2 separate regions of the Homo sapiens genome follow, and region 2 is linked to region 1. Evidence: fine-mapped expression QTL. A gene starts in region 1. The other region holds a variant in brackets. All regions are shown on one strand. Distances are from middle to middle.

The links. PIP is the estimated chance that this variant, and not a neighbour inherited with it, causes the effect.
Region 2: its variant is the best candidate, but not a certain one, in a credible set for the expression of NT5DC2 in pancreas (GTEx, PIP 0.60).

Annotation. Positions count from the first base shown.
Region 1 is chr3:52,532,190-52,536,563 of GRCh38, reverse strand. NT5DC2 (5'-nucleotidase domain containing 2) reads left to right here and starts at 2,707. Exons shown (of 14, transcript NM_001134231.2): 1 at 2,707-3,058. The coding sequence starts at 2,827. RefSeq lists silencers at 1-273, 2,308-2,807, 2,868-3,217, 3,248-3,337 and an enhancer at 3,468-3,597.
Region 2 is chr3:52,503,890-52,508,263 of GRCh38, reverse strand. It overlaps STAB1 (stabilin 1), which reads right to left. Exons shown (of 69, transcript NM_015136.3): 9 at 4,362-4,374; 10 at 4,109-4,236; 11 at 3,715-3,803; 12 at 3,388-3,525; 13 at 3,121-3,261; 14 at 2,883-2,945; 15 at 2,483-2,596; 16 at 2,328-2,381; 17 at 2,014-2,094; 18 at 1,414-1,572; 19 at 589-651; 20 at 238-333. Among named protein-coding and RNA genes, the nearest start is that of STAB1, 11 kb to the right of the region's middle. RefSeq lists enhancers at 692-1,293, 1,294-1,893, 3,260-3,765, 3,766-4,271. The variant C/T (reference allele first, on the strand shown) is at 2,430.

The DNA.
Region 1 (4,374 bases):
CCAATCAGACTGCAGCGGGGGCGTGCAGCTCCGCCAATCAGAGCACGGCAGGGCGCGCGTGCTCCCTGAAGCCGAGCAGGGCCTCGAAGGAGCTGGCGCAGGCGCCTCAGCTCTGGAGGTGGGACGGCCCAAAAGGGAAGGACAGCCCACGTGGCGCCGGCCCGGCCCCGCCCCCTGCCTCCCCAGTGCAGGTCTGAGCTCGCAGTTGGCAGCCGCGCCCCCTACTCTGCCACCGCCATTTTTATTCCTAATACCCAGATAGAAGTGATGACCCTCTCTGATGGACTATGTACAGCACCACATTCCAAAATGCAATTATGCAATGCCTTGCGTTTATTTCGGAGACGTGATTGGTGCCTAGACTTCTAAAGTAACAGAATTTGATATGGAGTGTTGAAAGCTGAACTTTATCAATTATCACAGCAAAAATCTAAGTAAGCGCCCCGTGAGAACCCTAAAATTAATAAAAGCTATCTTGTATGGGGCACTTACAGTTCCACAGGCACTTGTAGGCGCTTTATTCACAATAATCGCAGAAGAGCAGTATAAAGAGCATGCACTCTGTTACCAAACCACATCCCTGCTCTACAGGTGCTCCCTTAGCCCATCTGTGCCTCAATTCCCTAAGCCGTAAAACGGAGGCCTTGTTCTGACGCTGTGATAATTTAGTGCGGTAATAGGAATGATGCACTGAACACAACCCTGGAGCATAGTAACTGATTAATATTAGTTAGAATATTCATTATGATGATAATGATTGGCAGAGCCCTCGCTCTTCACATGTATTCCCAAACATGGTTTTTGTTTGTTTCTTGAGACAGGACCTCGCTCTGTCATCCAGGCTGAAGTGCAGTGGCGCAATCTCGGCTCACTGCAACCCCCTCCTCCCCGGCTCAAGCCATCCTCCCACCACTACAGGCGTGCACCACCACGCCCGGCTAATTTTTTAATTTTTTGTAGAGATGGGGGTCCCACTATATTGGCCAGGCTAGTCTCAAACTCCTGGGCTCAAGAGATCCTCCTGCCTTGGCCTCCCAAAGTGCTGTGATTACAGGCGTGAGCCACCGCGCCGAGTCTGAACGTGTATTGTTTATATGTAGTCTCTTAACTGACAGTTTAAGAGACTATGCCAGGTAGAAGCAGGGCTCTGACTTAAGAGACTTCACTTGTAATTGCGTCTTCTCATGCTGCTGTGCTTGCTGAAGATAACTGAAAGGGGCTGTCACCCCATTACCTAGGACTAAAGTAAAAACTGCAGGAACAGCTTTGAGAAAGGAGACAACTATTAGACAATCTAAGGAAGGTAAATGAAAGCTTAGAACCAATGAGACGATTTGGTGATATGGACACAAAATATACAAAAGCAGACTGGAGAGAGCAAGCAGGGCCCCAGAAAGGGTCATAGGGCCCGCAGTGAGCAGCCTGAGCTGCCGCCTGTACAACCGGCTTTGGAGGGCCAGCCCGGAAGCCTCTTTCTCCTCCGGGTAGACTCCGCCCAAGCATGCACACACACAGGCTTGATGCTCGCTCCCGTTTCTACAGGAGGTTTTGACGGCTGGATGCTGCAGGGCATCCCCTCGCCTGGAGGAGGTTCACTTGTGGCCAGGTTCCCAGCACACCCACTTGCTCACTGGGGCCCTGGGGACACCGCCACACTCGAGCCCATCCTACGGCCTCAATCCTTACCAGTCCCCAGGCCATGGACTGCCACACTGTAGGTCTTCAATCAAGGTTCAGTGGAGTTTCGAATGTACACACACCCTGAAAGACAGCGCGGCCACCTCAGAAAACAACGCGCGCCCAGCTGGCTCCCCTCCGACAGGGCCCACGGCTACTGGGTCGGCCTCCTCCGGACCCTGAGCACAGCCTGGTATGCGTGCGGGCTCGGAATACGGATCTGAGCAGAAGAAATGCGAGTGGAGAGCGGTTCTGCGCAGGAAAGAGGAATTTTGTTGGAAAGCCTGTCGACGTTGCTAGAAAAGACCACAGCATCTCACGAGGGGCGTGCGCCGGGAAACCGGGAGTTGACGGGTCAGTGCGGCCAGTTGCCGAGGTCCGAACCAAGCGGGCGCAGTGACCGTGGCCCACAACCCTGCAGCGCACGGCCCAGTCACCTGGTTAGCGGACGTCGGCTGCCCTGCAGGCCCCTCGGCCTCCCCCAGCGTGGGCCTGGCACCGGGAAGCGCGGGAAGGGCTCTTTATTTGTTAGACCAGTGAGTGGACTGGCCCGGGCTCTGGTCAGTGGGCAGTCAGTCCGAGCCCAGAGACCGGGGACCAGGACCCCGGGAAAGGAGAGCACCAGGACTAGGGGGAGGAGCGGAGGATCTGGGGTCAGAAGCATCCAGAGGCGCAGGGTAGGGCGGGCGGACCCGGGAGCGGAGAGGGCGGCAGAGGACCCGGGGGCCCGGGGGGTACCCGTCGCGCTCCGGCTGTCTCCTCTCGGCGCCTCGGCCGTCCGGAGCCTCTCAGGGACGGCCGCTCTTAGGCCCGCTGACTTCCAGGGCTGGGGCCAGGGAAAGGCGCCGCCATCGCCGGCGTGACGGCCGAAGGGGGGCGCAGAGTCCTCCCGGACCGCGCCGGAGACTGGCTGGGGGAGGGGGCTGGGGAGCCCTCCCCGCCCCGCCCCGCCCCGCCGGGTCCGGGGCCTCCCGCCCCCCGGGCCGAGGGGCGCGCCCATTGGCAGGCCGGGCTCCGCGCGCCGCACCCATTGGCCGGCCGCCGTGAGGAGCACGAGGCCACCGTGGCGGGCGCGCAGTCGGAGGGCGGCGGGCGGCGGGCGGCGGGCTGGCCGAGGGCAGCGCGGGCGGCGGGCGGCGCGCGGTGGGCATGGCGGGTGCGGGGCTGCGGGCGGCCGCTCGGCGCTGGCTGCTGTGCGGAGGCCACGGCGGGCCGCGAGCCGCCTCGTCCTCGCCCTCCTGCCCTGGGTGCGGCCCCCCGGGTCCCGGCGCCCACTGCCCCGGCGTCCCGCGCTCCGCGCCCGCCCAGGCACCCACCAGCGGCGCCGACCTCAGCGCGCACCTATGGGCTCGCTACCAGGACATGCGGAGACTGGTGCACGGTGGGTGAGCCGGGGCGGGACGTGCGCCGGGGTGTCTTCCGCGTGGACTGATGGACGGACCGAGCCCCAGGGTGCCGCTCCTCCGGGGAAACACCCAGTGGGGCTCGCCAGGGCCCCGGAGCGCAAGGGCCGGGCGGCTTTTCGCGAGAAGCTCCGGCCGTTCATCCCGGGGGCCTCTGGGGCGCCCCGACGCCCGGGGGCGGGCGGGAGGTTTGTTCCCCGGCTCGGTCTGCAGGAGCTCGGGGCTCCTCGAGCGGCTGCCGGAGTGCTGGGCCCCCGCCGACTTCCTTCGGGGTCCCGCCTGCCGTGAAGCCGCGGTGGAAACGCCCCCAACCCCTTGTTCTCGGCCAACCCTTAGTTGGGGCGGGAGAGTGCTGTGGACAAAGCCAGCGAGCGGCGCCGGGCGGAACGGGCTCCTAGGGACGGCCGGACCAAAGGGGACACCGGTTGGACTTCCCAGACACACCTCGATGTCGCCCTGGAGGTCCGGCCCCCTCTCAGCCCGGGCAGCGAAGGCTGGGAGAAGCCAAGTCACCCCCGCCCCCTGGAGCCCAGACTAGGGCTGCAAAGGGCACTTAACCTCCCTGTCCCTGCTCTCTCCCTCTGAGAAATGGCGTGAGGAGGCTGAGGCCCCTTCTTGGAGGGGGCCGGCTGGGGCGCACTAGTGAGGCCCCAGAGCTGAGAGTGCTGGACATCTGCCTGCTTGTCTCCGTGGGTCTAGTGGGGCCCTGCTTCTGCAGCAGACAGATATGGTTTGGGTCGTGACCCTATCACTGACCAGTTGGGTGGTCCCCCAGCAAGTCTCACCCTCTCTCAAGCATGAAACGCAGTCCTGGGGCCTCTCTGTCCCAGGGTTGGGTGATGACTGGAACCAGGCCAAGCAGGGCAGGAGAGCTTCCGGAGGAACCCCCAGGGGTGACGTGGCTTTTGTTGTCTGATAAAACAAAGTAGCCCTGTCTGGAAGATTCTAACTGGCTAGACAGGGGTTTTCACTCCGGCTTTGTGGGGTGGCGGAGAATCACTTCTTGACCAGTAAAGGCAGGATGGTAAAGGCCCCTGAGGAATGGTCATTTTGAAGCCTTGGGCATCTGTCCACCCTCGAGGTCCCAGGTTGAGTTTGTGTCTGTGGAGGGGCGGCCCAGCGTTATTTAAGAAGTCTTTGCTCTGGGCCCGGAGAAGACCCTCAGAGTATCCTGAGAAGCCTGCCTTGGAGGTTTCAGGGAGGACTACGGGGATCTACTGGACATTGTCCTCCTGGGCCTGCCTGCATCTTTGGAGCCTCACAGCCCTCTAAGCTCCTCTTGTCATACAAGGAG
Region 2 (4,374 bases), 28 kb after region 1:
ACAGAACAGGTCCAAGAGGCCATCTGGGTCCATGCCCTCCCTGCCCAGGCTGCCTCTGCTCCCTGGCCCCATCTCCAGAGTGACGGAGTGGATAAGGTTTCTCTGGGACCCCTTTTCCACCGTCAGGCTGCAGTGCATCCTCTGAGGGAGGGAGCCCACTCAGCCCCAGCTTGGGGGCCCCCGAGGAACAGCAGGTGCCCAGGTGACCTGGGAGTGGGCACCCATGCCCACGCTTACCATGATGGTTTGGTTGCAGTAGCTGGCACAGCCCTTCTTTAGCACATTGAGCCCCGTTGGGTCATGGATGTAGACACACTCCTTGGGGAAGATGTCCTAGGGTGGGCCATGCAAAGCCAGTCAGTGGGTGTGGGTTCTGGGCCAGCCCCTTTGCTAGGCAGCCCTGGTTAAGGGACCTCTGCCCCCTGGGTCCAGAACTCTAACCCTGGTCCAGTGGGGCTGCGAAGCACTTAGCCTCCAGGTGTGATCTAGCCTCCCAGCCTCTGCTTCCCCCACCCACCCCTGTGACCCAGGGCAGAAACCTCAACAGGCAGTCAGGAGGCCCTGAGAGCTGGGCCAAGGTGTGCTCACCAGCTTCACACTGTTGGGGGGACACGTGCTGGTGTTCAGGGCTTGGCAGTCCACACAGGAGCCCTGGGCAGGGCAGGGGCAGGATGGGGAGAGGGGTTAGTCATTGTTTATTTACTCGGCAAACCCAGAGAAGGGAACATTGAGTGGGGATTAAGGGATGAGAAGAGCCAACCACAGGAAGCCCAGCACTGGCATTCCAGGCAGAGGAGAGCAGGGGCAGAGGCCCCGAGCCGGGCAGAGCTAGAGTCTCTGGAAAACAGCAGAGAGGCCAGAGGCAGGCACAGAGTGAGTGAAAGGGGATGGAGCGGTGGAGGATGCAAGAGTTATCTCAGGCCAGGCTCAGTGGCTCATGCCTGTAATCCCAGCACTTTGGGAGGCCGAGGTGGGCGGATCACCTGAGGTCAGAGGTTTGAAACCAGCCTGGCCAACATGGTGAAATCCCATCTCTACTAAAAATACAAAAATTAGCCAGGCATGTTGGCGGACACCTGTAATCCCAGCTACTCGGGAGGCTGAGGCAGGAGAATCGCTTGAACCCAGGATGCGGAGGCTACAGTGAGTTGGGATTGTGCCACTGCACTCCAGCCTAGGCGACAGAGCAAGACCCTACCTCAAAAAACAAAACAAATCTCAAAGATGGAATCATAGTCCTGGTGAGGGTGAGCGTGGGGGAAGCACAGGTGGGTCCTTGGGAGTCTGCCAGCAGGGCCTCAGAGCCGGCGTCAGCCCAGCCCTGACTTAGCGCCTCTCCCTGGGAAGAGGATTGCCGCTCCAGCGCTGACAGGGGTTAGTGAGTAGGGCCCTGGCCGTGCAGGCGAGGCTCACCGCCACAATCTTGTGCTGCTCCTCGCTGCAGTGCTTGGGCAGGATGGGCAGGATGGTCGGGGGCAGCAGGATGCCGTCCAGCATGTGGATCACACCATTGGCGGCCATCACGTCTACCCTCTGCAGCGGGACCCCCTCGGGTCCCAGCAGGATGCGCCCCTGCGGCAGAGACCCACTGAGCCAACCCCCAGCCTGGCTGGCCTTGGCCCGGTGGGGCTGCCCACCTCCACCCCTGCAGCCCAGTTAGAGCAGACAGGCAGCTCAGTGAGCTGCTGAAGGCCCCGCTGGCCATACCAGCCACCTCTCCTTCAGCTCTGGCCAACGACACTGCTCCAGGCTGCGGGTCCTTACCCACATGGCTTCTGCCACATGGGGCAGCCCTACCGTGTGCTCCATGCTCCTTTTTGGAGTCCTCCCCCTTAACTCTCATTGGGCCCCAGCAGAGGAATTTGATCTCTGCCTGCTTCCTTCCCCATGAGCCCGCCATGGCCTAGCAGTGTCCTGCCCACCACGGGGCTCGGAGCACACAAGGCTGAGAGGCCAAGTGGGCAGCTGGTCACCGCCAGCCCCACCATCCGCCCAGGTGTCCGTGCACCTCACCTCCTCAGAAATGTTCACAGCCAGGACCTGGTTCGCCATGGTGAGGATCCGACCCTTGGAGATGAGCTTCTCAACGGTCAGCTGGGGCAAGGGACAGTGTGGCTTTAGGCTGGGCTCTGGCCATACCTTGGGGCCACGCCCAGTCCTGCCCAGGAGGCTCACAGCCACCCCCTTGGTCCCTAGGCTCTGTGCTATAGCAGAACAGATGAGAAGGGAAGGGAGATGGAGAAGAGATGGGGCCTTGGGGAAGTCCAGAACCTGCAGGCAGGCCCACCGGGTACAAGCTGGCCGCCCCCCAGAAAAAGACCTCGCACCTGGCCGTGGTTGTAGATGTGGTACCGCACCAACTCCTGCAGTTTAGAGAGACCCTGGCAGGGGAGAGAGAGGGTTTGGCTCCTGGAGGAACTGTGGGGGAG[C/T]GTGGAGGTCCTGGTGCCCCCATACCCGCAGCCCCTTCTCCCGCTGAGCTTACCGCTGTGAAGAGGTAGATCAGGCGGCCGTCACGCAAGCTGTCCACAGCCTCATTGCTTGGGGCAAAGACTGTGAAGGGCCCAGGTCCGTCCAGGATGGAGGGCAGCCCACAGTTCTGTGGTGGTGCAAGGGAGGCTCAGGGGGTTGCATGGCCAGCCTCCACCTCTGAGTCCTGCCTGGGCCCTGCCACCTTTGGCCTGCAGGAAACTCCCACTGAGTAAGGGGGAGACATGGGCAATGGGTCCATGCTACCACAGAACCTCAGGCTTGAGGACGGGGGCATGGGCAGAGGCCATGCTACTTCAGAACCCCAGGTCACTGTGGGGCAGAATCTGGGATAATGAGTCCTGGCTCAGAAGCCCAGAAGCCCACATGGGCTAGGACCCCTCCCCCGAGCTTACCTCCAGGATGGTTTCAAAGCGGCTGAAGGCCTCGGTAGAGGCGAGGATCTGTCCGATAGTTCTCTGTAAGGAGGGATGAGTGTGAGGGCCCCAGGGAAGGGGTGAGGCTGCTTCAGCCCAGCGGGGAGAAGCTGCGCTCCAGCCCTGAGTAGAATGGCTCCTGCCCACTCACTGCTCTCTGCAGGGGTCTGAGATTACCCAGCAGCACAGGGGAGGGGAGGGGAGGATGCTGGCTCACCTTGGGATCCCCAGGGGTCCCAGAGGGGGCCTGCCACCGCAGGCCAGTGACCACGTGGAAGACGCCATTAGCTGCTATGTTGTTGGCCTTGTAGATGTTGAACGTCTGCTGGGGCTGGTCTTTGTACTTGTAGGAGTATTTCTGGTGAGACACAAGAGGTCTGGCCAGATCCCATATGCCAGCCCCCTGTCCGGAGGCTCCCTCCCACCTGCACACCCTTGCCAGGCTGTGACTCCTCTTGTCCCCAGGCTGAGGCTCCTCCCTCACCGTGAATTGGTTAAAGGTGACGGTGATCTCCTGCCCGGCCAGCGTCCACCACCTTCGTGTTTGTTGGGTCCTTGTGTCCTCCAGGATGTGCTGCCCTGCGATGATGTGCTGTCTACAGAGCTGCTGGGCAAGGGATGCCTGCAGACGCAAGGCGGGGAGCAAAGTGAGCCGGGGGGCCAGTCCTCTTCACACCACCTCTACCCAGCAATGGAGGGGACAGGATGCATCCCAGGCCCTGATGCCTTCCAGGTGGCCCTGAAGACTGGGGATGCATCCAGGGGAGGAGGTGAGGGCCAGTGGCCAGCTCCACCATGGGGAGGGGCTTACATTCATGGTCCTGGAGGAGAAGGAGGAGACGGATGGCACCAGCACGGTGAAAGGGCCCGCTGTGGTAAGGATTTCCCGGCAGCCCTGGTCTGGGGGGCAGGGTGAGGGAGCATCAGAAGGGAGCTGGGGAGACTCTGGGGATCTCAGAAGATGTTCGGGCATCAGACCTGGTGTGGGGGAGTTGGGGTGGGGGTATTCTCCCTAGATTTAGGGTAGATGGGGGCCTTGAGGTTGGAGAGCAGCTCCCACCCCCTGCATGCACCCCCCACAGCCACCTGTTTGTTCCCACAGCCCTGGGCAGAGAAACTGGAATCTGCAGAGGCAGCTCCTCCCTCCCTGCCAACTGTGCTGGGGGTGAGGGGTCGGGTCGTGGGCAAGCAGTGGGGTCACGCACCCATCATGGCCACGGCGACCCTCAGCTGCAGGAACACCCGGCCTGTCTGCGTGGCCTTCTGCACCTCGTGGAGCAGGTGTCCGTAGCAGGCACGCCCATCCCCCACCTCGCTTTCCCTGCACACACAGCTGGGCTCCCAGGGAGAGCCAGTCAGGGCGGAGGCTGAGGCCCCCCCCACCGCACCCCCCACGCCTTCCCGCAGAGGGCACGCTTGCCCAACCCACTGTCTCTGCTCCCAGGCACCTGTGCTCACCTGGTCTTCCCAT